5 separate regions of the Homo sapiens genome follow, and all the other regions are reported to be linked to region 3. The links are microRNA targets in miRTarBase. Many come from high-throughput screens and were not tested one by one. Region 3 holds a microRNA gene; each other region holds the end of a gene's coding sequence.
Evidence for each region. Region 3 holds the annotated microRNA hsa-miR-6499-3p (AGCAGUGUUUGUUUUGCCCACA, at 1,930-1,951, opposite strand). A microRNA usually pairs through its seed, bases 2 to 8, with sites in the 3' UTR of a target mRNA and lowers its output. Matches are read on the target gene's strand: a 7mer-m8 pairs with bases 2 to 8, a 7mer-A1 pairs with bases 2 to 7 and ends in A, and an 8mer does both.

Region 1 (5,895 bases), not on the chromosome of region 3:
CTCCACTGACCAGTGCTCATGTACCACTCCCATCTGGAATGGAGTTAGTCCCCCCAGCCTGCAGGTGCCTTGTGTGAAGCGTTTCCAGCCAGGCAGTCTCACCTCACTTACCCTGGGCTGGTTCTGTGTCACCTCATGCATGTTGCCTTTGGAGTCATTGCCATATTTGACCTGGTGACCTGTATAAAATGTCAGCTTCCGAGGGGAGACCACTGTCCACAATAACAACAAGGTTGTACACATAGGCAGGCTGGCCTTGGGGAGCATTTGCTGGGCTGCGAGAGCCACCTGGCAGGCAGGTGGGCTGGAGCCAGGTGGGAGGTGGGCGGGAGCCAGCAGGAGTCGCGAGGGTGGGGCCCCCTCAGGCCGCTTCTCTGGGTGATGTCATATTTGCCACACAGCAGCCTGGTGGCCCTGCCTGTTGCCTTTGAAAGAGAGCCTGCCGTGATCCTGGCTGTTTCTGTCTCCAGGTATGATGAAGAATTGGCCCAGGGTGACGGGGCTGACCGGGAGCTGAGAAGCCGTCAGGGTCAGTCTCTGGGGCCCAGAGCAGGCCGATCGAGAGACTCGGGGAGAGCGGTCCTCACCACCTGGAAGTGAGTCCCACCTGGACCTTATCAAAACTACTCACTCCACCTGGGCCCCTGCTGAAGCCCTATTTTGAAATTTCCCTTTTGTAGAGCTTTTTTCCTTTCCTAAGCCCTGTAAATAAACGAAGGCACTTCTTTGGAAGGTTATGGAGTCTGTTTGACTAGTGCTAAAGGAAACAATTCATGCGGATGTATAAAACTCGCTCTTTTTTTTTTAATTTTTAACCTAAGCAGAATTTTCATATTAAAAACTCACTTTTTTGACAGAAAGTAACAGCTTCAAGCATGTAATTTGATGTGTCACAAGGTTTAAACATTAAAAAAACTTTACACTAAATTAAAAACAAAACAAATCTTATAGACTCGTCCTGCCACGAGAGAGGAATGTATTTAACTGACGGCTCTTTTAGTTGCGTTTCTTTTTACTTGACTGCGATTTTTTTTTTTTTTCCCGAGACAGAGTTTTGCTCTGTCGCCCAGGCTGGAGTGCACTGGCACAATCTTGGCTCACTGCAACCTCTGCCTCCTGGGTAGTATTTCTCCCACCTCAGGCTCCCAAGTAGCTGGGATTACAGGCGTGTGCCACCACACCTGGCTAATTTTTGTATTTTTAGTAGAGATGGGGTTTTGACCATGTTGGGCAGGCTGGTCTCAAACTCCTGACCTCAGGTGATCTGCCCACCTCGGCCTCCCAAAATGCTGGGATTACAGAGGTGAGCCACCACGCCCAGCTTACTTGACTGTGATTTTGAAGAAAACAGGCAACTAGAAATATTCCTCGGTAATTTATCTTTACAAAGGCCTTTGTCTAGGTGCTCCCAGGAAGACCTGTTTTCTTTTCTTTTCTTCTCTTTTCTTTTTTTTTTTCTTTTCAGACAGGATCTCGCCCTGTCACCCAGGCTGGAGTGCCGTGGTGCCATTGTGGCTCAACTTCCTGGGCTCAAGTGATCCGCTCACCTCAGCCTCCCGAGTAACTGGGACCACACAGGCACACACCACCACCCCCAGCTACTTTTTAAAGTTTTTTTTGTAGAGACAGAGTTTCACCATGTTGGCCAGGCTGTTCTCGAACTCCTGGGCTCAAGCGATACTCCTGCCTAAGCTTCCCAAAGTGTTGGGATTACAGGCATGAGCCACCACGCCTGGCTTCAAAAAGACCTGTTTCTACCACTTCGGTTTTGTGGATGAGTCTGTTGTAAATGGAACTAGATGAGCACAGACAGGTCCGGCTGTGTGCCTTTTATGACGTCAGCAGCTGGGTTTGCTACAGGGAAGCGCCGTGGGCAGCCAGGAGCTGTGGGAGGAGCGATGGCTGCGGGACAGGCTGCGCGAGCGTGGTTGTTCCCATGCAGTCTCCCGGTAGCCCGGTGACTTACAGGAGTGTATGGAGAGGACCTGAGTTGGTGGGTAGATGGACAGATGCATTTGAGTAATAACTCATGAGTTACAGTGCTGTTCTTAGGAAGGGTCTTTTTTTTTTTTTTTTTTTTTGAGGTGGAGTTTCACTCTTGACACCCAGGCTGGAGTGCAATGGCACAATCTAGGCTCACTGCAACCTCCACCTCCTGGGTTCAGGCGATTCTCATGGCTCAGCCTCCCAAAGAGGTGGGCTTACAGGCGCCTGCCACCACGCCCAACTAATTTTTGTATTTTTAGTGGAGACGGGGTTTCACCATGTTGGCCAGGCTGGTCTCGAACTCCTGACCTCAGGTGATCCTCCCGCCTCCGCCTCCCAAAGTGCTGAAATTACAGGCGTGAGCCACTGCGCCCGGCCAGGAAGGGCCTTTTACTCATGGTCGTATTAACACGTATTTGCTGAAGTTTCACTCGCTGTCTTGAGTTTATCTTTAAAGCTTGCCACCTGTTTTTGTTGCAATGCTAGTAACAGGAGTTTGTTCTCCCAAATGGCACCAAGGGTATGTCCTTCAGATAAGGGTCTTAACTGACTTGCCCAGGCTCTCTCAGTGCCCATGCATGGACGTGTGTCAAGTGTACATGCCATATTGTGTGTGTGTATATGAGTACATATATTTAATGATGTTTCACTGCCAATTAGGGAAAAATAGGTCTTTTCAACACAAATGGTACTTGGCTGGACTCCAAATAAACTACAATTGGTGGGCTTTTCAGCCATTCCTTCTTCGTGATCTTATTGGTATGTGTGTTGTGTGTGTTCCCTGGTGTTTAAGTTTTGTTTTGTTTTGTTTTGTTTTTGAGACAGAGTCTCGCTCTGTCGCCCAGCAGGCTGGAGTGCAGTGGCGCAACCTCAGCTCACTGCAATCTCTGCCTCCCGGGTTGAAGTGATTCTCGTGCCTCAGCTTCCCAAGTAGCTGGGATTACAGGTGTACACCACCATGCCCGGCTAATTTTTGTATTTTTAGTAGAGATGGGGCTTCACCATGTTGGCTAGGCTGGTCTCAAACTCCCAGCCTTAGGTGATCCGCCTGCCTCAGCCTTCCAGAGTGCTGGGAATACAGGTGTGAGCCACTGCGCCCAGCCGTGGGGTTTAGTTTTAATGTGTTTGCTGTTGATGGCGGGTGTGGGATGGAGATCCCCGAGTCAGACTTGGCCTTGTGGCCTGGCTCTGCTGTTTATTAGCTGTTTCCCAAGCCTGTCCCTGGGGTCGTTGCACCTTTGTTTCCCACTGTATAAAATGGGGAGTTCTGTGGCCGGGCGCAGTGGCTCATGCCTGTAATCCCAGCACTTTGGGAGGCCGAGGAGGGTGGATCATCTGAGGTCAGGAGTTCGAGACCAGCTTGGCCAACATGGTGAAACCTCATCTCTACTAAAAATACAAAAATTAGCCTGGAGGCTGAGGCAGGAGAATCGCTTGAACCCAGGAGGCGGAGGTTGCGGAGAGCCGAGATGGCGCCATTACACTCAAGCCTGGGCAATAAGAGCGAAACTCCGTCTCAAAAAAAAAAAGGGGGGGAGTTCTGTTTGCCTCAGAAACAACCAGTACCACCGCACAGGGACCCTGCCCGCACGCCTTGCTGGCTCTGGCGAGCCCTCTTACCTCCCAGGAGGGGGTGTCCTCTGCACAGCTGGCGGCTCCACCTCGGCTCCTACACGCAGAAGTGAAAGACACCCCGTTAACTGTTCCCAGCTCTTCCACCGGTTTTTACAACCCGGTTCTCAGTTACATTGTGTTGTTTTTGCCTCCCTCTGGGAGAAGGGTGGAGTCCCTGGTTGGGAACGTTGGCCTCTGAGGCTCCGGGGCCACGCAGTCCTAATGGAAGAGTCACACCAAGTGGTTAGTTTGCTGGTGACCCAGTTGCTAGGTGAGAGTGAGGCTCTGCTAAGTGGATTTATGTCATATAGTGACTGTCTCATTAATGATTTAGTGATGTCATGTTCTGGGCAGATGTTTCCTCTGAGCACTTCCAGGACACGGGTGGGAAGGGTGCGGTGTTGGCAGCAGGCCTCGGGAGGCTGTCGGGCCAGGAACAGCCCCATTCAGCGCTAGGCTGGGGCTAAGCAGTGAGCCCTGCTGGGAGCTGTCCGGGAGCCGTTGCTGTTTTCTTGTCAGCCCCCACACACTTGATGGGGTGGGTCCCAGGCCAGAGGGTTGCATCCTGTGGTCGTTTTCACCAAGTTTGATAGGCTTGGTTTTCCCAATATAAACCCATCCTCGACTGGGCACAGTAGCTCACGCCTGTAGTCCCAGCACTTTGGGAGGCTGAGGTGGGTGGATCACCTGAGGTCAGGAGTTTGAGACCAGCCTGGCCAACAAGGTGAAACCCCGTCTCTACTAAAAATACAAACATTAGCTGGGCTTGGTGGTTCATGCCTGTAATCCCACCTACTTGGGAGGCTGAGGCGGAAGAATCACTTGAACCCAGGAGGCGGAGGTTGCAGTGAGCCGAGATCGCACCATTGCACTCCAGCCTGGACAACTGAGCAAGACTCCATCTCAAACAAAAGAAAACCACCATCCTTCACCTCCTTTGCACACGGGCTGCTCCCCGGGTATTAGTGAGGGCCTGGTGACAACCTTCTCACTGTCTCCCTTCTCCTCCTCCGCCTCCCACCTGGGCTGCCATGGAGACCCCATCAGTCTGGACCCGCATCTGGTTGCGCTCCACCAGCTGCTAGGACTTTCCTCACAGGGGGCCATTTCCCCTCCACACAGTGGTTCTTCAGGGTGCTCCATAAAGCCTCCTATGCTTGCCACCCATTGGCCTGTTGGCTCACACTGCCACACACCATGTCCACCAGTGCCAAACACACGCAGCTCCTCTCTGAGTGCCCCCAGGGGCCAGCGCACTCTCCACCCTCCCCTCTGGAGCCATTCCCAGCTGTGCTGCGGCCGCCTGGCCCTCTCCCCGCAGCAGCCCTGCAGCCCCTGTGGTCTGGGGAGGCCAAGGTCTCCTGCAGGGCCCTGCCTGCTGGTAACGGCACAGCGACTGGGGCTGCTCAGCGACTGGGCACCCTCAGGCTGTTTGTGTGTCCCCTAATGTGAACTGTGCCCCAGTGGAGGGCCCTGGGGCACGTGAGGACCCTTTGTGAGCAGGTGGGAGCACATCCACTTTTGATTCCAGTCTCTCATTGTGGAAGACGAGGGATTTTGATCTTCACTGATTTGCCCCAGCCTGAACCATATTAGATCTCACATCCTGTGAACAATGGCGGCCTCCTGCTTTTGTCCTGAGAAGCATTCGGAGCGCTCCTCCAGTGACAGATGCAAACCCACCTTGCTTATGCTCCTGCCCGGCCGCTGGCGCTCTGTCAGCAGGAACAAGTCTAGGGGCCCATGGCGTTCCCTCAGGCCCAGGCCCACCCTGCCTGCCACTTGGCCAACATTCCCCCACAATTCCAGTTTAACTCACCTAATCTCCCCTCCCCTTCCCACCCCTCCCCTCCCCCCTCCCCTCCCCCCTTTCTTTCCTTTTTTTTTTTTTTTTTTTTTTTTTTTAGACAGAGTCTCACTCTGTTGCCCAGGCTAGTGGCACAATCTCGGCTCACAGCAACCTTTGCCTCCTGGGTTCAAGTCATTCTCATGCCTCAACCTCCCAAGAAGTAGCTGGGATTACAGGCATGCGCCACCATGCCCGGCTAGTTTTGTTTTGTTTTGTTTTGAGACGGAGTCTCACTCTGACACCCAGGCTGGAGTGCAGTGGCGTGAGCTCAGCTCACTGCAAGCTCCGCCTCCCAGGTTCATGCCATTCTCCTGCCTCAGCCTCCCGAGTAGCTGGGACTACAGGCGCCCGCCACCACGCCCGGCTAATTTTTTGTATTTTTAGTAGAGACGGGGTTTCTCTACTAAACATGTCTACATCCTGACGTGTTAGCCAGGATAGTCTTG
Region 2 (5,950 bases), not on the chromosome of region 3:
TTGGTCATATCTTCTCTTTTTTTTATTTTTTGTGACAGAGTCTCGCTCTGTTGCCCAGGCTGGAGTGCAGTGATGCAATCTCGGCTCACTGCAACCTCCGCCTCTTGGGTTCATGTGGTTCTCCTGCCTCACCCTCCTGAGTAGCTGGGATTACCGGTACTCACCACCACACCCGGCTAATTTTTGTATTTTCAGTAGAGACAGGGTTTCGCCATGTTGACCAGGCTGGTCTCGAGCTCCTGACCTCAAGTGATCCGCCCGCCTCAGCCTCCCAAAGTGGTGGGATTACAGGCATGAGCTACTCCGCCTACCCTGGTCATATCTTGATCCAGTGATTACATGCCTAGGATATTATACTTAAATATATGCATAATTGTGTAAAATTACTAGTTAAAAGGTTATTATTACAGTATTGTTGTAGTAGCAAAAGAATTAGAAATAATGCAAGTGTCAGTTGAGAAGTTACATACGCAATAGAATACCATGCAGGTATAAAAGAATGAGGAAGCTCTTTTATGATTTCATATACAAAGATCTCAAAACTATATTGTTACATGAAAAAAAGTTACATGCAGAAAAGTGTGTACAAAATACTACATTTGAGTAAAAATAAAAGTAAGTATTTATGGAAGGATATACAAGAAAATGCTTACACTGGTTACCTGCTAGGAAGGGGAGTGAGTGGTGAGGGCAAGAGAGAAGAAGATACATTTTACTGAATACATCGTTTTGCCCCCTTTGAATTTAGAACATGTGAATGTATTACCTATTTAAAAAATAAAAACTATTGCAACGTAAAAAGTTATCCCTCCCCCTTAAACTCTAATCAATAATTTGAGTACTAACATATTGTTTGTCTGTTATCTTAGGGGTTTGATTTGCGACTGGAGCACACTCATTTTTTTAGTCGTCATGGAGAAGGTGGACACTACCATTATGACACTACTCCAGATATAGTGGAATATCTTGGATACTTCTTACCTGCAGAGTTTCTCTATCGCATTGATCAACCAAAAGAGACGCATTCAATTGGGCGAGATTAAATCAGCTGATACTTATTTAGAAAAAGAAATAATTAAGGTTAATTAATTGATTGACTTATTAATTAATACTGATATAAAACCAATAGAAATGATCCCACAGGCCAGGCACAATGGCTCATGCCTATAATCCCAGCACTTTGGGAGGCTGAGGCAGGAAGCACACTGGAGCCCAGGAGTTTGAGACCAGCTTGGGCAACATAGCAAGACCCTGTCTATTTTTTTAAAAAAGTAAAAAATAGAAATTATCTCACTACTTAAATCCCATTTTTTTCACTTCATATGAAAGAACATATTGATAGTATATTCTATATTATTTCATAGATCTGTCTGAAAGAGATTGGGAACAAAAATATCTAATTGAGATATTCTTTAATTTTTTACATAGCAGCTTTATTTTTTTTATTCTGTAGTATCAGCGAAATCAGTCATGTTTATACCTTGAATATAAATATCAGGAATCATGCAATTATTTCTACTATGTATTTAGTAGTATCTTATATTTGTATAACATTATTACATTTTGCAAATTAGTATCACAACTGCTAAGTAGATGTTTCTGAGTATTAGAAAAATCAGTGTTATTACCTGCAGGATATTAAAAAACATTTGAAAAAGAGAAAAAGAAAAATCAGTGTTTAGAAATGTTGATAGTTATTGAATCTTTGAATTGAATTTTAAAAATCCATTCTAGTAATCAGAGTATACTTTTTTTATAGAACAAGGTGGCAGGTGGGGAGCCCTTTACCCTTCTGGTGAAGTTAAACCATAGAAGTTTACAATTTGCCTTTCACAAACATTAGCAGTCCGGGCATGGTGGCTGAAGCCTGTGATCCCAGCATGTTGGGAGGCCGAGTGGGAGGATTGCCTGAGCCTAGGAGTTTAAACCAGCCTGGGCACCATGGTGAGACCCCATCTCTATTATTTAAAATGTTTCTTAAATAAAAAAAACACAAACATTAGCAACTAGTTGGCTAGCCATAATTCCTCCCTTGTTTCGATTGCCAGTTAGAAGCAATTTTTATTTCACTGGTTATTTGCAAGAGAAGGGGTAAAAAAACAGCATCAGAGTGCAACACTGAAGTGAGCTTACTTTAATTTGTAAGTGAAGCTGTTGCTGAACATGACCACTATCGTTGCTGAAATATAAAATTATACTCACTGATTGTAATGGTTGAAATTTTCCTGAATAATCATTAGCCAAAGATCAACTCTCTAATGGTGCTAATGGCAATCTAGCTAATGTGCAAATTTAGGAAGTCTTCAGTACTAAGTACATAATTTTCAAATAATATTTTTTAATTGTCTACTTTGGATGTTAGCTATGTCTTGTGAGTATAAATTCCAATTTTAAGCACTATTTTGATGCAAAAAAATGAATAAAAAATTTAATTTATGATATGTTTGTAATATCTTACCTCCAGACAAAATAATATTAATAGTCTATCATTTAACAAATATGTATTGAACACCTACCCTTCTCTCTGGAGTGTACACTTCATGTGGGCAAGGGCCTTGTTCACGACTGTAGCACTAGTGCCTTTAACTGCTAGCAAAGTAGCCACTCGGATGATTATACCAAACACTTTACTAAAGCTGGGGATCTGTCTAGTGGGGAAGACAAACAATAAATATATAATATGTCAGGTGGTATTAAATGCTATGAAAAGAAAGGAGTAGATGGACTGTAAAGGAGGATGCTATTTTTTTGTGGCCATCCCGCACTGAGACAGGATGCATTCCACACTCAAAATTTGGTTCACATGTCCAGACTGATAGCCAAGTTCAGTGGCTCACGCCTGTAATCCTAGTACTTAGGGAGACCAAGGCAGGAGGATCACTTGAGGCCAGGAGTTCAAGGCCAGCCTGGGCAACAGAGAGAGACCCCCATCTCTGCAAAAAAAGAAAAAAAATTTTTTAATTATCTGGGCATGGTTGTGCACACCTGTTGTCCCAGCTGCTCAGGAGGCTGAGGCACGAGAATCACTTGAGCCCAGAAGTTGGAGGCTACAGTGAGCTATGATTGTTTCATTGCACTGTAGCCTGGGCAACACAGTGAGACCCTGTCTCAAAAAGAAAAAAAAAATGACTGATGAAGCCACACACACACCAACAGAGTATGAAAGGGTTGTTACTCACATAATGAAGCTTTCTGGGGAAAGCAGGGCAGCTCCTAAGCAGGATTTGACAACAGGGAAGGAGACTGACTTGGAGTTTTTTGGTGGTTAGGGAGTAGGGCCAGAGTGATGTTTCTTGCATGTGGTTTGAATTTCCCACTGGTATCAAAGAAGGAAACACCCAGGCTTGCTTGCTTTATTTTTTTAAAGAGATGGTGTCTCACTATGTTGCCCAGGCTGGGCTCAAGTCATCTTCCTGCCTCGGCCTCCCAAAGTGCTGGGATTACAGGCATGGGCCACCATGTCTGGCGAGCACCCAGGCTTTCTTAGCTTGCCAGAGGTGTAGGGCATAAGGGGACGAGGGGTGGGATAAGGCTTAAAAGCCACCAGCAGTCAAACATAAATTAAGTCAGATTCTTAATTACAGATTTCAGATCTGATTTCAGATCAGAGCTTATTTCAGGTCAGATTCCAGGTGTAGAGATCATCTGAAGCAGTCCTGGGCCTCTTCACACTACAGATACCAACACTGCCTTTACTCTTCCATTAGTGTCCTCCAAAATGGGGTGCATGGACAGCAGGTACACATGACCTTCCAAGGGGTGTGGGAATATTAGAACATCTATTTATATATTTTATTTCGTCCTTTTAAGTTTCTGTGGTTTTGTGTACATTTCTTACGTTAGGGATTTCAGTTCAAAATTGTATTGCTGATAGACACAATTCAAAAAGCTTGGAGACCAGGTACATTCACACCATCTAATAGAGATGGGGGAAAAGATCAAAATGCTTTTCTTTTTAAATTTTTTCTTAGTTTTCTTTCTTTATAGAGACAGAGTTTCGCCGTGTTGGCCAGGCTGTTCTCGAACTCCTGGCCTCAAGTGATCTGCCCGTCTCAGCCTCTCAAATTGCTGGGATTACAGGCATGAGGCACTGCACCTCACCCAAAGTGCTCTTCTTACTCTTACATTCACTCAGTATAACACAGAAAGCTTCTGTGACCAGATGCATGGGGGTTTTTCCCACACACCAAGCAATTCTCCAGCAGACATCAGCTGGGGGTCCTATAATTTAATTCAATTCTAACACTATTTACTTGGAGATAGCGTCAGATCCCACAGTTTAATGGTTCAATCCTCCAAGACTGCCTCCCACTTCCGATGCCAATCACAAGCTTCAGGTTGTGACCTGTACTTTTGACCAACCCACTGTAAATCGGGGTCTCTATGCCTACCTCTTCAGGTTTGATTAATTTGCTTAGAGCAGATCACTGAACCCAGGGAAACACTTTACTTATATTTTCCAGTTTATTAATAAAGGATATAATAAAGTATACAGATGAACAGCCAGATGGAAGAGATGCATATGGAAAGGCCAGCAGAAGTCCAGAGCTTCCACACCGTTTCTGGGTGCCCCACCTTCTAGGCATGTCCACCTGTTCAGCAATTTGGAAGCTATCCAAACCCTTTTCTTTTGGACTTTGGCTTTGTTTTTGTTTTTGAGACAGGTTCTCACTCTGTCACCCAGGCTGGAGTGCAGTGGCATGATCTCTGCTCACTGAAACCTCTGCCTCCCAGGCTCACGCAATCCTCCCCTCTCCGCCTCCTGAGTAACTGGGACTAACAGGTGTGCGCCATGACGCCCAGCCAATTTTTGTATTTTTCGTAGAGACGGGGTCTCATCATGTTACCCGGGCTTGTCTTGAACTCCTGGGCTCAAGTGATCCACCCGCCTCTGCCTTTCTTTTGGGATTTTATAGAGGCTTCCTTATGTAGGCAGAATTGATTAAATTATTGGTCACTGGTGATAAGTTCAACCTTCAGCCTTTCCTCTCCTTCAAGGTTGGTGTTGGGGCTGAAAGCCGGAATTCTTTAATCACGTGGTTAGTTCCTGGGCAAGGAGCCCCTATCTTGAAGCTATCCAGGAGCTTCTGGCATGCAGAAACCCACTTATCACTGTCATTTCATTAGCATACAAAAAACCATTTATCACTTTGGAGATTCCCAGGGTTTTAGGAGCTGTGTGCCAGAATACTGGGACTAAGACTATCTATACATACTGCATATCTTATTATACATCACAGTGTCATACCATCTTTCCAAACCTAAAATAAGAACACAGATAAACCTAAAGAATTGTCATCCAACCAGGTGCAATGGCTCATGCCTGTAATCCCAGCATTTTGGAAGGCTGAGGTGGGAGGATTGCTTGAGCCCAGGAGTTTGAGACCAGCCTGGGCAACATAGTGAGACCCCATCTCTACAAAAACTAAAAAATTAGCTGGGCATGGTGGCACATACCTGTAGTCCCAGCTACTTGGGAGGCTGAGGCAGGAGGATCACTTGAGACCTGGAGGCTGAAGCTATAGTGAATCCAGATGGCACCACCTCAGCCCATCCTTGGCAACAGAGTCAGACCATGTTCCTTTAAAGAAGAAGAATATGTCATCCAAAAGACCACCAGGATGGCTAAATAGTAGAAAGGAGAGCTATATTGGTGATTTCAGTTTGCACAGCGGGAAGAGACAGTCTCCAGCTTATGCCAAAAGTGCTCTCTTCCCAGAGGGAAAAGGGCAGATTGGTTTTTATGCCTCACAGGGCCTGTATCACACAATAGAGTAAAACATATTCAGCAGTTTTGGGAGAAAAGTTATACATATCTATGAGGGAAGTTGAACACACGTGCAATGGATAAACATATGTAACACAAATCCCACGTTCACTTTGGGGTAAGGTTTTAACATTAAAATAAGGTGGAACTTGGCCCTTCATGTCAAAAGGTGAACTATTGGAC
Region 3 (5,950 bases):
CGAATGCCAGGCAGCTGGACCCATAAAGGGCAGGTCAGGCCAGGCCAGGCAGGAGCGCTGGTGAGCTGAAGGTCATGTCACTTTCCTTTAGCCAAGGCTCCTGAGCTGCTCCCTTGGCCTTAATGCCAGGGATGCTGGGTGAGTCTTGGAGTGCCTGAGGAGCTTAGTGAAGAGTTCAGGCTTTAGAGTGGGACACACAGATATTTGAATAACGAGGCCTTCATTGGAAGCTGTACAATTTCAGGCAAACTAAATCTCATATCTCAGTTCCAACTGCAGATGGGGCTAATGACCCTGCTTGGTAGGGCTGTGGTGCCGATTAGTTTAGGTGACATCTACACAGAGTGTGGCGTACAGCAGGCTCCCTATAGCAACTGCTACCACGGGAATGACAGTCACCGTTGATCTGGGGCTTATTGTGGGCCAGCCATGGGTTAAGTGCTTTTATAACTCTTACGTAATTTCCCCCCCGAACCCAACTCCAGGAGGCAGATGTATTTATTTTGACTATTTTATAGATGGGAAACTAAAAAGCTCAGAGGGTTTTAACAATACACCCAAAGTTACACAGCTAGTGACTGATGGAGCTAGGGTTTGAACCTGAGCTGTCTGAGTCTAAGCCTTGAGCTTATAACCACCAGACTATGGTAATAATAGTAGCAGTATTAGTAACTCACATGTATTGACCACTTTCTATATGTCAGGCACTGTTCTAAGCAAGCACTTGATACATAGTACTGATGTAATTCCTACAGCAGCCCAGCTCAAAGGCACAGAGAGGTTAATTTTCCTAAAGTCGCCTGGTTAGTAAGGGGTAGAGCTGGGATTTTAACCCATGAAGACTGAAGCCACAGCCTATGCTCTTAGCCATGATGTTAAACCACATATTGTAGTCTTACTGTTATTTTCTAAATCTCGAAAGGGAGCTGAGAATTGGGTATTATTCCATAACTAGATTTTGTGAGGCCACTAGCCGTCTTATGGTGATTGGTGGCCTTTGGGCTTATTAAAACTTCCCTGAACTCTCCCACAGAGCCTCAGTGGAATCTCCATGCTTAGAGTCAGGCGGGCTGAGCCCAGCAGTGCTGCTCGTCCCTAGGGAAGATGTAGTACTTACCATTGCAGGAGCAGCTCCTCTGCAGGTGGTGCCGCGGGGTTAGGATGCTGAGCCTGGCGGTGCTGTACGTGGGCCCAACCTTGGGGTCCAGATGCACTGTGTTATGGCAGATTTGACCCTGGCAGGTTGGCCCCTGGCAGGGCACCATGGGCATAGCTGACCGCATCTGAACCCCCACTGAATGCTCCATCTCCTTGGCTGAGTGAGTGATGATGGATGCTAGCTCCTGAAACTCGTAGAAGGTTCCAGAATGCCCCTCAAAGACCAGGAGCACATCCACACCAGCCACGGCCTCTGCAGGCTGGAGGCTGGCCAAGTGAATGTTAGCCCGTTTGATGTCCAGCTTATGGCTGAGGAACCTCTGCAGGTTCCGCCAGTGGTCACTCACCAGCTCCTCGGGGGTGAGCTGGTAGAAGCCCATCCACATGGCCTGCTGCAGAGCCTCCTGCCCCACATGCCACACGTACACATGGACCCCAGCAGTCGTGGTGAAGGTCCCATCGCTGACCGTGACGTTGAACGAGTAGTGGCCACGAGGCAGGCCCTGGGCGGCGATAATCTTGCCATCAGGCGCACCCACTGAGAAGTGCCTGCCCAGGGTCTCCTCTTCTGCCAGGCTATAGGTCAGCGTGTCCTGGGGGTCTCGGTCTGTGGCATGGATCTTACCCACCATGCCACCCTGGAACTCATCCTCTCCAACAGTGATGAAGATCTCCAGTGGGAGAGCAGAAGGTGCATAGTGGCTCTGCTCTGTGACATGGACACGGACAGACGTCAAAGACGAGAGGGGAGGGATGCCACTGTCTGACGCCTGTGGGCAAAACAAACACTGCTGTCACCCAACAGAACTGCAGTGCTCTTGCGCCCGACTGAGGCTGGGCCTCCTTGTGGAGCTACGTTTCTCTGCCCCACGCCCAACTTGAGGGCTGGCTCAGCGCATTGTTGCATTTAGAAAAAAAAAACCTAACTCCAAAAGCACTGACAGAAAAGAAAGATTTTCTGAAGGTTTTGTAGAGATTGAAGGAGGGAGTTACATCCTATACCATGCAGTAAAACAATGCAGTTTCCTCATGTGACATCTCTCTGAGCCTCTTCCTAAATCTCTCCAGCCATAGACTTGGGCTAACTTCCTCATGAAGTTTCTCATTCTGTCCCTGTCCTCAAGGGCGCCCTCAGATGTCTCAGCAATTCTGATGCACCATGCACCCTGCTCAGCCTACGAAAATTCCCCTTGGGATTCCCTTTTGCTATGCGATTGGAGTGGGAGTCGGGATTTGTCCTTCTAGTCAGTCAACGAAGTCTTCTGCTGTGGCCAGGAGAAAAGAGACAATAAATAAGTTACCAAATAACTTGGATAAAATGCTGGGAAGGAAATAAACAGAGACCTAACTTTGATCAGGTAGAAGAGAAGGAGTCTCTGTGGAGTGACATTTGAGTCCTGAGGGATGAGAAGAAGAGGCGACAGACAGAGGGAGCAGCAAGTGTAAGGTCCTGGGGTAGGAATGAAGGCGGTGTGTTCAACAGCACAGACGGGGTCACTGGTGCTGGAGCAAGTGGGCAGGGAAGCAGGCCTGACCTCACTGATGGGCTGGCACGCGCAGGGTTGCAGTTAATGTCAGAACTGTGAAAAGCCGTGAGGGTGACAGGACCTCACTTAAGTAGGGAAAAGAATGTAAATCATAAACGCATTTTCCTTTCATGTTTCACCACACATCCCTGCAACTTCCTGCCTGACTTAGAAAGGACAGGCTTGCCTTCTTCTCCTCAGTGATGTTATCACTTCCTCAGCTGTCAACGAGGGTCTCCACAATTTTCCCTGTAGTAATATCTTGTTCACCTGCACTCCAACACTTTTAATGTACAAGAAAGTTGATAAGATTACACCTACTGCTGGAAGTCATGCATAACACCGAAGAGATATTAATAGCAACAATAATAATTAACACTACTGTTAATTATAATGTATAGCTAACATTAGTTACAACAATACTACTACTACCGATTATATATAATACATAGCTAACATTAACTGAGTACAATGCTAGTCATTATCATAGATAAACTATGATAATGCTGTAAATACATTATCCTAGTTTATCCTTCTTATGAGATAGGTACTATCAAGTCACCCATCCTACAAAAAATATAACTGAGGCTCAAAGAGGTGAAGTAACTTGCCCAAGGTCATACAGCAGCAGATAAGGCCTGAGCAGAATCTGAATACCTATCTGTGTCTATAGCCTGTGTTTTTCTTTGCTGGCCTATGGTGCCTCCCAGTGCATGGAAGTGGAAGTACGGGACCAATGCAATTGATGGTGATGATGCCAGTCATTACTAAGCTCCTGTCTAGGCAGGACGTGTGCCTGGGTCTGAGAATACAGAGGTCAGGAAGCCATTCTCTCTCATCTCTCCCTAGGCAATCACATCCATGCTCTTGGCTTTGAGGGCCATCTACCAATCCTCTGAGCTGCCAACTCCAATTCCCAGCTACCCACTGGACACCTCTGCTTGGATGTCTCACAAACAACTGGGAAATAATGTGCAAAACAGAGCTTCGGTTTAGCCCATAAACCTGTCCTGCCTTCCCGTCTGGGCCTTTCCAGTCTCATAAATGCACTACCACCGAAGTCTTCATGGGAGCCAACAATTTAGAAATCACCCCTGAATCGTCTCTGTTCTTTCTAACTGCACATCCACTCCACCAACTCCTATCAATTTACATACAAAATATGTCCGAAATCTCTCCGCTTCCTGCATCTTCTCCATCACTCCGTGGTCTCAGCCCCACTATCTCCAGCTTGGATGACTTCTCACTGGTCTCCCTCACCCACTCTATAGAGCTTGAAAAATGAGCTTCCTGAGACACAAAGAGGATCCCTTTTCCGTCTGAAACCCTCCAACCACCTCTCATTGTACTTAGATTAGAATCTAAAAGTGTTACCAAGGCTTATACTTAGAAGATTGGATGCCCTGGTTTGTCAAGGACAGTCTTGATTTTTACCTGTTGTAAATCAGCTACTACCAAGTATTATTTTTAGTGCCTGTTTTGGACTCTATGTTTGTGTCCCCTCAAAATTCATATGTTAAAATCTAATCCCCAGTGTAACAGTATTTGGAGGTGGAGCCCTTGTGAATGGGATTAGGGCCCTTATGAGAAGGGCCATGTGATACAATGAGAAGCCGACAGTCTGCCATTCAGAAGAGGGCACTCACCAGAACCTGGCCATGCTGGCACCCCGATCTGGGACTTCCAGCCTCCAGAACTGTGGGAAATACATTTCTGTCCTTTAAGCCACCCAGCCTATGGTGTTCTGTTGTAGCAGCCCAAATGGACTAAGTCAGTGCTTCTCTCACTCTCAAAGATCACAGTTTGGACCTCAGATAATACAGTCATCCAAGCCACAAGGCCCACATGATCTACCCAGCCTATCTCCTCAGCCTCATTCCCACCCCTGCTCATGATGTTCTCAGTACCTCAGCCATACCTCAAGCCACTTCAGGCTCTTTCCCAACTCATGTTGCTCTTCCTGCCTGGAAGACTCTCCTGCCCACTTTTCACATGGTTGGCAGCTTGGCTCTCTGCTCAGATGTCACCTCCTGGGGGCAGCCTCCCTCTGAATGTGTGTCCCCCTGTCTTATGAGTCTCTCATCACTTTACTTCCTTATCATCATTTGTAAAGATGTTATTTCTTTCTTTATCTGTTTATTGTTTATCTCCATGATTACAATGGAAAGCCCCTGGAGACAGGAATCATTCCCTCCTTACCCTCTGCTATGTTCCTAGCAGCTTGCAAATGGCCTCGCATGTAGTAGATGCTCAATAAATACTTGTCGAGAGATGGACTGACTGACTGAAAGAATGAATACATCATTCCCAGCCCATAAGTTTACAGAATAGTAGGGTCCACTGGACTTGAGATTTAGGAAAGAGATTTGGAGAAATAAAGTGAGGGAGAGATATCAGACCACCATCTTGGCCACTGTTCTTTAGCAATTCCTATGAAACCCATAACACCACCACCAGAATCCCCTACACACATGTGCATACAATATCTCACTTGAGCCCCAAGCCAGTTCTCTGAGGTAGGTTGTTTTAGCTCCTGAGGTTCAGAGAGCTGTTCTGGCTAAGCTCTAGGAGCTACAGCCAGAGGGTGTTTTGCCCAGGCACAGAGCAGGGATTAAGAATTTGGAGTCTGGGGTCAGAGTGCTTGGGTTTGAAGCAACCCACCTTTGCCACTTATTACCAGTATTACTTTAAGCCAGTCACTTAAATCCCCTGTGTTCCTCAGTTTCCTCATCTGTAAAGCGGGGTGGTAACTATACCTGCCCTGAGTGTTATGAGGCTTTAGTCCTGAGAAGGACCTAGCCCAGTGCCTGATGCATCCTAAGTGCTTTGTACATTTTTTCCCTAATGACAGAAGCACTGGTGGGGCTTTTGCCAGCATCTTTACTGTCCCCATGGTCACCACCAGAAGCCTAGCACAGCTCTCACCTGGATCTGAAGCTGATACCATTCCTGAGCCCTCCTGCTTAGGCCCTCAGCAGTCACCAGCCATCCATCCGGGGTCACTCGGAAGGCAGAGCCGTTGTTCCCCTTGGTGATTCGAAACGAGTAGGGGGGGCCATTCTCTGGAGAATCTGGGTCACTCAGGATCAGCTGCAGGACTTTGCTGCCAATGGGGGAGTTCTCCTGAGACCGAGAGTGACAAAGAAGGCAAAGAGCAGAATGAGTCCCGGTCCTTCCTTTCGCACGTGTCTGGGTATGTCATCTGGAATGAGTCCTCAGCACTCTGACTGCTTGTAGATGGTGCCTGGACATCAAGCTGCTGCTCA
Region 4 (5,950 bases), not on the chromosome of region 3:
CTTTTGGCTTACATCGTTTCTGCTGTCATTGTTTTTATTCGTTTGGATGTATTATCCACTTGTCATCTGCTTACAAGTCTGCTGTCATTGTTTTTATTCCTTTGGATGTATTATCCACCACTGCCTTTGCAGCCTCCCCTTCACCCCTAACACACCCAGCTGGTTTTAAGATTTTCTTTTCATCACTGGTTTTCAGCAATTTGATTATGATGTGTTTTGGTGTATTTTTTCTTATTTTTCTTTTGCTTCAGAGTCATTGAGCATTTTGGATCTGTGGGTTTATAATTTTTATCAAGTTTGGAAAAACCTCAGACATTATTCTCTTAAATATTTTTTCCTATATCCCCACATCTTTACTGTTCTTCTGTGGTTCTAGTAATGTATATTTTAGGGTGCTCGATGTTTTATTGATGCACTGTTCATTTTTTTCCTCCTTGTGTTTCATTTTGGGTAAGTTCTATTGCTCTGTCTTTGAGTTTACTTATCCTTTCTTCTACCCTACCTAGTCTGCTGTTAATCCCATATAGACACTGAGACTTTTTAAATCTCTCCAAGTTCTATTTGAGTCTTGAATTTCTTCCATGTCTCTTCTCATTGTGTTTATGCTTTATTCTATCTTCTTGAGCATCTGGAGTAAATTTCTTATAGCAATTTTAATAACCTTGTCTACTAACTCTATCACCTGAGTTATTTCTGGGTCTATTTCTATTGATTTTTCTCATTATTGTTCATATTTTCCTGCTTCTTCATATGCCTGGAAGTTTTTGTTTTGATGCCATACATTGTCAATTTTCCATTGTTGAGCGCTGGAATTTTTTATGCCTAAATGTTTTCATGTTTTCTTCTGGGATGCAGTTAAGTTACTTGGAAACAGTATGATTCTTCTGAAGTTTTTTTAAAACCTTTATTAGGTGGATGCCTAACAGCCTTTCACTGAGGACTATTTTGACCCCACTACTAAGGCAATATTCTTCTGATCAGTCTACTCGATGCTTCAGGTGTAAGGTCTTCCACTATGGCTAACCTAGCTTGAACTGAGCTTTGCGGACTTTTCTGCTGGCTTCATTCCAGGGGTTCTTTCCTCATTTTTGGTAGTTTCCTCACAGGCATATGCTTATCAGTACTCAGATAAAGAATCAAAGGAGACCCACTTCACATCTCTGGAGCTCTCTGTCCTGCTCTCTTCTCCATGGTAATCTTCCCTGTGAATTCTAATCACCTTGGACTCTTCAAACTCTGATCTCTGTCCCCTCAACTCAGGGAGAACACTCAGTTCCTTTGGGGCTTCCCTTTCCTGTGCTGTGGTCTGGAAACTCAACCAAGTCATAAGATAAAGCATTGTAGGCCTCACCTTATCTCCCTCCCTTCTTTCAGGGGTGACTGTGTTGCACTATTTTCCCATATCTAAAAATTGCTGTTTCATAATTTTTGTTTGTTTGTTGTTGTTGTTGTTGTTTAACCAGAGGGTAAATCTGGTCCTGTTACTCCACCATGGCTGGAGGTGGAAGTCCTCTACATCCCTCTCGTGAAATATGAAAAGTGAACTATACAAACTGCAATAGAACGCTATGTGTTTAGAAGTTTAATGTGAAAATGAACCACTGAGACATAACCACATGGCTAAATCCCTTTTTCTCCTACTTAGGCAAAAGGTATTATAACAAAAAGAAAAGAATTTAAAATCCTAGAATTTCAAAGGAGCAAAAGATGTTTTAATCATCCAGTTCCTCTCTTTCCTTTTGTATATGAGGAAATAAAATCTCAGAGGTGTTAAGGAATTGTCATATTAGTATTGGTCAGAGCTGGGATCAGAACCCAAGTTTCCCAACAGACAAGCCACTGAACCATGTTATTTCCATTCTGCCCATAAACAATAGTGACCATTTATCAAGTACTATTAAGTACAATGTGTCCATATTTTGTAAGCATTATCCTAAACTTCCTGACAACCCTAGCAGTATCAGGGTAGGTACTACCATTGTCACCATTTTACAGATAAATTACCTGAAGCTCAGGGGGTTTAAATGATTTGTCTAAGACAGCTGTTCTCAAATATGGTCCCTGAAACTCTTCTGTGGGGTCTGCTGGGTTAAACTGTTTTTATAATAATACTAAGATGTTATTTTCCTTTTCTACCATGTTCACACTTGTACTAAAGGTGTAAAAGCAAAGATGGGTAAAACAACTTGCACCTTGGCATGAACCAAAGCAGTGGCACCAAACTACATTCAAAACTCTTGTATTTTTCACCGTCATGAACTTTCAGGGCTTTTAAAAAGCCAGTTGGACTTTAAAATGTTCTAAATGAAACAGTATGTTATTAATTGTATTAATTATGGACATCTATGTAGATGTCATTTTATTATTCTGTGGGACAAAATGGGAAATACACTTAAAGCACTTCTGCAAAGAAAAGCATTTCCTTGAGTGTCTGAGTTTCAGGCTGAACTTGACACTTTTTTCTTGGAACATCATTTTTATTTGAAATAATGACTGACAAACTATAGTTCATCATATACAGTTATATAGTAAACACTTTCCTAAAAATGAGGAAAGTGAATCTATCACTTCAAAGAAAGCAACTGACAACATTTGTCATCAATGATAAGATGAGCTTTTGGGGGGGAGATGGAATTTTGTAAAACATATTTTTCACTGTGAGCTTGACAGCTTCCCAATACTGCAATACTTTCCTGATGAGATTGGTGAAGACACTAACAAAATGATTTCATGGTAGTATACAATAAAATGCATCAACACTTGGAATATTTGCTTAACTCAGCGAATAAATATTTTCAAGATGAGCAATGCCTGATATCACAAAATCATGCATTAGTAAAAAAAATCATTCAAAGTACAAAATCAACCAGTGCACTTTAATGTAATAGCATTTGAAAAATGTTCACTGATAATGCTTTCAGATCCACACCACAATTAACTTTTAAGAAACTGCCATCTGCCTTTGTAGAATCAAAATATATCCCAAAATTACCTGAAAAAGCTATTAAAATACTTCCTTGTATTCCAACTGTATATCTGTGTGAGACTGAATTTTTTTCATATACATCAACCAAAACAATATATTGCAACAGAGTAGATGAAGAAACTGATATGAGAATCCAGCTGTGTTCTATTAAGCCAGGGAATAAAGAGATTTGCAAAAGTGTAAAACAATGTTACTCTTCTCAGTACCTTTTTTTTAAATAGCTTTTTACATAACAATGGGTTATTTTTGTTAACACGTAATGGGTTTATTATTGTTACTTCTAAAAAAGTTAGTAAATAATTACTTACATTTTCTCCTATTTAATTTCGAATAGTCAATATCATCAGACATAACCCACATAAACAAAGGCTCCTCAGCGTCCTTTAAAAGTGAAGAGTCCTGAGATCAAAATGTTTAGGAAGTGCTGGCCTTAGATAACACATCTGAGAAGTGATGAAGCCGGGTCTATGTTCATCTGGCTCCCAAACCCATTTTGTTTCCAGGATACGATGTTGCCTCCTTACCCAAAGTCTCATCAGTACTAAAATAAAAAACAGAATTGGATTCCTAAAAGCTTTATTTTGCAATGTTTTCCATAATACTTAAGTTTTTCAACGTTTAGATATTTTTCTTTATTGAAGGATGAATTTCTTTTTATGGCTTGTTTTATATCGTGCAATGTTTTTTCTATAATGTTTAAGTTTTTTTATGTATGGGTGTGTGTGTGTATATATATATATTTTTTTCTTTTTCTTTTTTTTTTTTTTTTTTTGAGACATAGTCTCACTCCGTCGTCCAGGCTGGAGTGCAGTGGCGCGACCTTGGCTCACTGCAACCTATGCCTCCTGGGTTCAAGCGATTCTCCTGCCTCAGCCTCCCAAGTAGCTGGGACTATAGGCACATGCTACCACGCCTGGCTAATTTTTTGTATTTTTAGTAGAGATGGGGTTTCACTGTGTTAGCCAGGATGGTCTCAATCTCCTGACCTCATGATCCGCCCGCCTCAGCCTCCCAAAGTGCTGGGATTACGGGAGTGAGCCACCATGCCCAGCGATGTTTAGATGTTTTTGCGGAAGCAAAAGTTTCTTGCCCTAAAGCTTTAGAACTCCATTAGGTATTGAAGATGACTCTTTGGGGCTATAAAATAAAATGCAGTAAACATACTAGTTTTATATTGCATGCAAAGTCCAAATAGTTGAGAAATGTCCTCTATTAGATTTCACAAAACAGAAAGAATTCTGAGCCAGGCACAATGGCTCATGCCTGCAATCCTAGCACAAGAGACTGAGGTGGGAGAGAATCACTTGAGGCCAGGAGTTTGAGACCACCCTGGGCAACAGAGCAAGATGCCATCTCCACAAAAAATTAAAAAATTACCCAGGTATGGGCCGGGCACGGTGGCTCATGCCCGTAATCCCAGCACTTTGGGAGGCAGAGATGGGTGGATCACGAGGTCAGGAGTTCAGGACCAGCCTGGCCAAGATGATGAAACCCCGTCTCTACTAAAAATATAAAAATTAACCGGGTGTGGTGGCAGTCGCCTATAATCCCAGCTACTTGGGAGGCTGAGGCAGAGAATTTCTTGAACCCAGGAGGTGGAGGTTGCAGTGAGCCGAGATTGCACCACTGCATTCCAGCCTGGGTGACACAGCGAGACTCTGTCTCAAAAAAAAAAAAAAAAAAATTACCCAGGTGTGGTGGCCTGTACCTGTAGCCCCAGCTGCTCTGGAGGCTGAGGCTGGAGGATCGCTTGAGCCTAGGAGTTCGAGGCTGCAGTGAGCTGTGATGGTGCCACTGCACTCCAGCCTGGGCAACAGAGGTAGATAGATCTTGTCTCTTAAGAACAAAAAAAGTAATTCTAATTCTCTGGCTCTGGGCTGATTTTTCATCCATTGGGACTAAGCCCCAGGAGTTACAGTGATGTCCCGGGGGGGCCAGCCTTGCTGGGGGATGCCCTTAGGAGGAATTCTTGCATGCCCTTCCTCAGCCGTGCATTCTCCGCGACCTCCCTCAGGCTTCTGTGCAGCTTCTCCATCTCCTTGTATTCACTCCCGACATCTACAGGAGAGCAGAAAGCTCACATCAGGACTTGGTGTCCGTTGCAGAAACGTCTCCAGAAAGCAAATCCCCCAACAATCCTGTCACTTGTCCCAGAATATGAGATCTGGAGTGGTGCTTACAGATCAGACATCAAAGCAGGTGTTCCTCCTCTTACCAGAAAGCTTTCTCAGCATGGGGTCACCCTCAAAAGAAACCCAAACCTACCCATAAGAAAAACCCTGAGAAGTCACTGGGTCTGTATTAAGGCTTCACAGGTGTGTGATATACAAAGCATGTTGCACAATAACACCTCCTCTAATTCCTCTCCAGGCGGCTCCCCCTCTTCCCCCCACCCCAATCCCTATCCTCCCAGCACAACCCATTCTCAGTGAATGTTCTCTTTCTGGCATCTCAGGTTTTAATCCCATGATCTGTAATCAAACCATGTTCTCACAATGGTTAGTTTTATGTGTCAACTTGTTTAGGTCACAGGGCCCAGAAACCGGATTAAACGTGAGTCTGGATGCCTCTGGGAGGGTGTTTTTGGATGAGATTCACATTTAACAGGGATGCTCCAGTGACAGCCTTGGGCCTTTGACATGGAGTTTTGCTCTTGTCACCAAGTCTGCAGTACAATGGCATGATCTTGACTCACTGCAACCTCTGCCTCCCAGGCTCAAGTGCTTCTGCCTCAGACACCCAACTAGCTGGGATTACAGGCACCCACCACCTCGCCTAGCTAAATTCTTTCTTTTTTTTTTTTTTTTTTTTTGTATTTTTAGTAGAGACAGGGTTTCACCACGTTGGCCAGGCTGGTCTCGAACTCTTGACCTCAGTTGATACACCCGCCTCGGCCTCCCAAAGTGTTGGGATTACAGGCATGAGCCACCGTGCCCGGCCAAGCCTTGGTTGGGCCTTTGTCTG
Region 5 (5,950 bases), not on the chromosome of region 3:
AATGGGCTGCAGAAGGGTCACTGCCTATCTGGAGGTAGGTCAGGAGTGTGCTCGGGGTGGGCCATCAAGTGCTGCAGATGGGGAGGTGAAACCCTTGGTCACCTGGGGCCTGAGGGTGGCCTGAGGCTCACGTGTGTGCACTTGCCCCAGGACCTCTCCTCCTGTCTCTGGCCCCTGGGCTGGAGTTGTCAGGTATCTTCCCTGTCCATGAGACATCCTCTGAGGCCTGCTGCCGTTTGTGGCATCCTTTCCTCTCCCAGGCTGTGCTTGTTCATTTGAACCAGGTTGCACATGTGGGAGGATGTTGGTGGCTGAGCAGGCAGTGAGGCCTGGGGTGACTGGGCTGGTTGGTGACTGCTAGGAGAAGAACTGGCAGAGAAAGTCAAGAATTCAGTGATCAGAGAAACCAGGAGTCTTTCCAGTGCTGTTCAGGGCTTCCAAGAAGCCGCAGCTTCTGGGTCCACTGATGCATTTCTTGTGTGGAAAATAACACCATTTAGAAAGTGTTTGACTCTGTTTTTGCCTTGAAGAGGGTGACTGAGGTAGACCCAGGGCCACCAGCCACCCACACATGCCTTCCTCCTTCAAGGAAGACTAAGAAATAGGAGGAAGCAACTGGAAAAGGAAAGAAAAAAGTTATTTGCAAAATAGGCAAGGGAAGAATCAGACTTCAGAAGGACTGACTAGTCAAATTAGAACCACACAAGAATTTAAAGGGAAAAAAAGCCATTTCCAGAGGTCACCAAGTTCGTGTTCATCTGTTCACGTTAGAAGAACATCAGTCTCCTCTCATGATTTCCCTGCTCACCAAGGTTGGGATGGATCTTCAGACATTATTAGCACAGCCAAAATTGGGGATGGCCTTGGTTTTATTATGGAATCGACGTTTACAGGAAACATTCAAGATTTATTATTTTGGGAATGAGAACCAGTCAGCGTGACCCTGTTATTTTTGGTTTAACCCAGGGACAGGCGTGTCCTGCCCCATGGCTTGTGACATACTTAATCATGTTGGAGGCAGGACAGAGTGTCTGTTTTGCTTGTGGTGCCTGTGGTTTGCCTCTTCTAGGCTTTGGGAATGTAACAGACTAGACCCCAGGACCCCTTTTTTGCGGGAGGGGTGGCTGTGCTGTGCCACTCGCTCTGCGGTGCTGTCTCTACGTCTTCAGTCGCAGCTGGGGGGTGAGGAGAGGCGTGCAGTGGGAGCTCCCAACCCCACCCTCCGCTCCCTGCCCTCTGCCTTTGGGCCCCAGCAATGGCCGCTGACTCTGCTGGTGTTGGTTTCAGATATTTGGCATCTTCCTGGCAAGGACGCTGATCTCAGACATCGAGGCAGTGAAGGCCGGCCATCACTTCTGAGGAGCAGAGTTGAGGGAGCCGAGCTGAGCCACGCTGGGAGGCCAGAGCCTTTCTCTGCCATCAGCCCTACGTCCAGAGGGAGAGGAGCCGACACCCCCAGAGCCAGTGCCCCATCTTAAGCATCAGCGTGACGTGACCTCTCTGTTTCTGCTTGCTGGTGCTGAAGACCAAGGGTCCCCCTTGTTACCTGCCCAAACTTGTGACTGCATCCCTCTGGAGTCTACCCAGAGACAGAGAATGTGTCTTTATGTGGGAGTGGTGACTCTGAAAGACAGAGAGGGCTCCTGTGGCTGCCAGGAGGGCTTGACTCAGACCCCCTGCAGCTCAAGCATGTCTGCAGGACACCCTGGTCCCCTCTCCACTGGCATCCAGACATCTGCTTTGGGTCATCCACATCTGTGGGTGGGCCGTGGGTAGAGGGACCCACAGGCGTGGACAGGGCATCTCTCTCCATCAAGCAAAGCAGCATGGGGGCCTGCCCGTAACGGGAGGCGGACGTGGCCCCGCTGGGCCTCTGAGTGCCAGCGCAGTCTGCTGGGACATGCACATATCAGGGGTTGTTTGCAGGATCCTCAGCCATGTTCAAGTGAAGTAAGCCTGAGCCAGTGCGTGGACTGGTGCCACGGGAGTGCCTTGTCCACTGTCCCCCTGTGTCCACCAGCTATTCTCCTGGCGCCGGAACTGCCTCTGGTCTTGATAGCATTAAGCCCTGATGGCGCCGGTGGCGCGGTGGGCATGGTTCTTCACTGAGAGCCGGCTCTCCTTTTCTTAAAGTGTGTAAATAGTTTATTTATAGGGGTAAGAATGTTCTCACACCATTTCACTTCCTCTTCCTCTCCTCCAGCATTCTCCTCTGAGCAGCCTTAGATAGTGTCCATGGCTGGAGCCGACCCTTTGAGTCCCCTTGAGTGTCTTAAGAACCAGCCCACAACAGCCTCTCTTTCTCCTCCACATACTGCAGCCTCCCTCCATGCATCCCACATACAAGCACTCCCCCACTCCCCAGCGTGGCCTCACTGTCTTCTGGTCTTGGTGCTACTGAAATTGTCACCCAGAATTTGAATCCTGACCCTCCCCACTGCAAGCCCAGGGAGCCCCAGCCCAAGATGGCCAGCCTGAAACTGTTGGCCAGGGCTCCTCTTGTGGCCATGTACCCAGGGCTGGCTGGCCTGCCATTTGCCTCTCCCCGGAGACAGCCGTTCTTCTGCAACCACACCCCGTGCCTAGCCACAACCCCAGGCTGCAGCTGCTCAGAAGCTCCAGGCATTTTGTTTCTGGTGACCGCCCCTAATGGGATATCGGTGATCACTGGTCCACCCTTCCTGTCAGGGCTTTTCTGGGGCTGCTCTTGGAAATGAAGTCTTAAGTACTGAATAACTCCCCTGGGGATAGCTGGGGCATTTGTCTAGCTGGGCTACTTTCTAACACTTTGCCATAGCTCAGACCACTTCTCATCGTTCAGGGATGGACTGCAACCTTAATTTACTTGCCGGAGTGTACATTCTAGTGTGGTGTATACTGGTGGCTGTTGATGATGATTTTTTTTTTTTTACACAATTCTCTGTAGACTAGGAGAAGAATGCTTGTGTTTTTCGGAAGTGTGATGCTTCTCTTTGACTGCCAAACTCTTTTATGGAATATATCTTTATATTAATGCTGTTTTGGTCATTTTTGTTTGGGGTCACTATTGAGATATTGCTAAGCATCTCAGTGGTAAACGCGGCTGCCAGAGGAACCAAGGGATAGGGTATGTAGACCTTACAGAAGGATGGATGGTAAAGGCAGTCCATCATCAGCACAATCTGACTTACATTTCATTGAGTAATTTTTTTTTTTTTTAAGATTCTGTATGGCAGCACTTTCAGTTGCCCTTGTGTGCCGGCCACAGCCGCACAAGTTGGCTTGTGGTTTATCCCCCGCTATAAGTGAGAGCTGGAGAAACTTCAACTCCATAGGTCTAGAGGAAACATTGTTTTAGGTTATTTCTGTCCACCCCTGTGCGATACTATTTATTGATCCAAGCAGAAGAGCTTGGGGACACTGAGTCGAAGTGGGGACATGGGATTGAAGCCTGGGCACTGCTGCTGCATGAGCTGTGTGTCCTGGGTGTGCCGGCCTTTCTGTGAAGGGGGTTGGTGGCAGTGCCCACCTCACTAGATGCCTCTGACCCAGCCTCCCCTGGGGGAGTGGGTGGCCACAGACCCTCCCTGCCAGAGCTCCTGGAAGGCTCCTGCAGGCCTGACCCATCTATTCCTGTAGACCTGGTTTAGGATGAAGTCTCGGTGCGATTTTTGCAGAGTTGGGTTTATCTTTCAACTATAGACCCTTCTGGCTGTTCTCAGCCATATCATGTGACTCTGAATAGTTGGATGAGGAATGGAAAGAAAGCAAGGATGAGAGCCGGTCACGTGGCAGTCTCCGCCCAGCATCGGCTGTCCGCACAGAGGCACAGGGCAGGCCTCCTGTGCACTCCCCACCTAGCACTGGCCTGTCCTGAATCCCCGCCTTCCCTGGTTGGAGGCCAGCTGTGGCATTTGCACCCTCTTCTCACCTCACCATGCACATGCTAACTTTAAAGCCTTGGGGTCTTTCCTGTACCCCCTCCTCAACCCTGGTCCACCCCCTCTCAGGATCTTGTCAACGTTATTTTTCCTGTCCCGTCTTCCTATCGCTGGCCTTCCTTTCCCATCCTAAAAACTTGCCGAGGCCCTATGGCTCCCTCCCTTTCTTTCCCAGGCAGCTTCTTATCTGGGCTGTCTGTACCCCTTCCTTTGCACCACCCACCATGCCCCACGTAGCTGAAAGCTGCTTATCCCAATTGTCAACTCTGGCCTTCTTCAGCCTCTGTAGCACCAGACACTGCACCTCCTGAATGTCCTCTGCTTCTCTGCTTCAGAGGCCCAGGCTCGCCAGTTCTCTGACCTCTCCCATATGTCTGCTTAGGACTCTGCTGCAGCTGTCCTCACCAGCCTCCGGGGAATCCCACTACCCACAGGGCAGGGCTGTGGGCTGGGCTGAAAAACCATCTGCATGGTCCACAAGAAGCCTGGCACTGGGTTTCCCCATGAATAACAATGAAAATTAATGGATGCACAACCTTCCTGGAACGTGGAATTTCTCTGGGAGATTCCATGCAGAGGCCACTGGGGAGGTGGCAGGCATGCATGTGACTGTAGGTGGCTGCAGTGTTGGAAGGCTCCCAGCAGAGCAGAGAGGGTGTCAGTCTCATCAGGGAACCCACCTGATGGCTTCTCAGCCAGCAGTCTCAGAGGAACATAGACGACTGCTGAGAAAGGAGGGAGGCAGCAGTGGTCCCAGCACCTGAGGCATCCTGCTGTCATGGGAAGGTCTCCGCCCAAATGTCAGATGCATCAGCCTGTCACCCGCTGGTCCAGAGCTTTCAGCTGTACTGGTAGGGGGTGGGTGGTGGAGTGCTGAATGACCTTCACAGGTGGGCCTTTCCAGCTCTAGGGTCTTACGGGTGTCGGTCCACAGAACCACGGTTTTTAGGTTGTGTGTCCGGGGCTATGGGAACCTGTCCCCCATGATGGATCTTGGTAGAGACACTTCCCTCTGTCATCGTGCCCAGGAGGATGCTGCAGGTGACTACCTGCAGCCCTGTTCTCATTCATTTGGATGCCCTCCAGAAATCTGGGGAGCCATACACCTTTAGAGCCTTTTTTGCTCCTTATCAAGTTGGCAAGGCTTGGCCAATTCCTGTTCAAGGCTGCATTAAAGGCATGTTCACCATCCTGGCTAATACGGTGAAACCCCTTCTCTACTAAAAATACAAAAAAATTAGCCGGGCTTGGTGGCGGGTGCCTGTAGTCCCAGCTACTCCGGAGGCTGAGGCAGGGGAATGGTGTGAACCCAGGAGGCGGAGCTTGCAGTGAGCCGAGATCACACCACTGCACTCCAGCCTGGGCTCAAAAAAGAAAAAAAAAAAAAAAAAAAGGCCCGTTCATTCTCAAATGCTTTTGGCGTCTCCAGGGTGCCTCAGGAAAACATGAAGTGGGCATTGTAGAACTTGGGGCTACTGTGTAACTTTGGAAGAAAAAGTTAAGGGTACTTTTAAGTGGATACTGTTTTGATGAAATTGCCAACTTCAGGGAGCCCAGCTTGGAGAAGGAGGACGTGAGTATTCCTTACAAGGCTCCGAAACAATTCTTTCTTCACTTAGTTTTCTTTCTGTGCTCTGCATCTTATATTCCAGCAGGGTCTTCCAATGCATGGTTTAATAACTACTAGAACTGGCCAGGTGCAGTGGCTCACGCCTGTAATCCCAGAACTTTGGGAGGCTAAGACAGGCAGATCACTTGAGGCCAGGAGTTCGAGACCAGCCTGGACAACATGGTGATACCCAGTTTCTACTAAAAATACAAAAATTAGTCGGGCATGGTGATGTGCACCTGTAGTCCCAGCTGCTCGGGAGGCTGAGGCAGGAGAATCGCTTGAACCCGGGAGACAGAGGTTGCAACGAGCCAAGATCGAGCCACTGCGCTCCGGCCTGGGTGACAGGAGACTCCATCTCAAAAAATAAAATTAAAAAAAAACTACTACAATAAATTATCACCTTGGACTGTATAAAACA

Region 1: the mRNA of TTLL1 is a reported target of hsa-miR-6499-3p. The part of its 3' UTR that is shown has no 7-base or 8-base seed match.
Region 2: miRTarBase lists C11orf54 as a target of hsa-miR-6499-3p. Seed matches in the 3' UTR shown: 7mer-m8 at 3,684-3,690 and 7mer-A1 at 4,089-4,095.
Region 4: the mRNA of NUGGC is a reported target of hsa-miR-6499-3p. Seed matches in the 3' UTR shown: 7mer-A1 at 4,758-4,764, 7mer-A1 at 4,590-4,596 and 7mer-A1 at 3,793-3,799.
Region 5: the mRNA of TSPAN14 is a reported target of hsa-miR-6499-3p. Seed matches in the 3' UTR shown: 7mer-A1 at 2,436-2,442, 8mer at 4,216-4,223 and 7mer-A1 at 5,266-5,272.

The regions. Positions count from the first base shown.
Region 1 is chr22:43,034,481-43,040,375 of GRCh38, reverse strand. It overlaps TTLL1 (TTL family tubulin polyglutamylase complex subunit L1), which reads left to right. Exons shown (of 11, transcript NM_012263.5): 11 at 471-860. The coding sequence ends at 600. It overlaps TTLL1-AS1 (TTLL1 antisense RNA 1), which reads right to left and starts at 1,791. Exons shown (of 3, transcript NR_125362.1): 1 at 112-1,791. RefSeq lists an enhancer at 5,828-5,895.
Region 2 is chr11:93,760,646-93,766,595 of GRCh38, forward strand. It overlaps C11orf54 (chromosome 11 open reading frame 54), which reads left to right. Exons shown (of 9, transcript NM_001286069.2): 9 at 870-4,104. The coding sequence ends at 1,043. Among named protein-coding and RNA genes, the nearest start is that of MED17, 21 kb to the right of the region's middle.
Region 3 is chr5:151,520,159-151,526,108 of GRCh38, forward strand. It overlaps MIR6499 (microRNA 6499), which reads right to left and starts at 1,990; the gene lies at 1,929-1,990. FAT2 (FAT atypical cadherin 2) reads right to left here. Exons shown (of 24, transcript NM_001447.3): 18 at 5,610-5,807; 19 at 1,118-1,928. It also overlaps a transcript of SLC36A1 not described here. RefSeq lists enhancers at 1-140, 1,826-1,995.
Region 4 is chr8:28,018,419-28,024,368 of GRCh38, forward strand. NUGGC (nuclear GTPase, germinal center associated) reads right to left here. Exons shown (of 19, transcript NM_001010906.2): 19 at 3,546-5,044. The coding sequence ends at 4,899. Among named protein-coding and RNA genes, the nearest start is that of SCARA5, 29 kb to the left of the region's middle.
Region 5 is chr10:80,516,618-80,522,567 of GRCh38, forward strand. TSPAN14 (tetraspanin 14) reads left to right here. Exons shown (of 9, transcript NM_030927.4): 9 at 1,288-5,950. The coding sequence ends at 1,359. Among named protein-coding and RNA genes, the nearest start is that of TSPAN14-AS1, 16 kb to the right of the region's middle.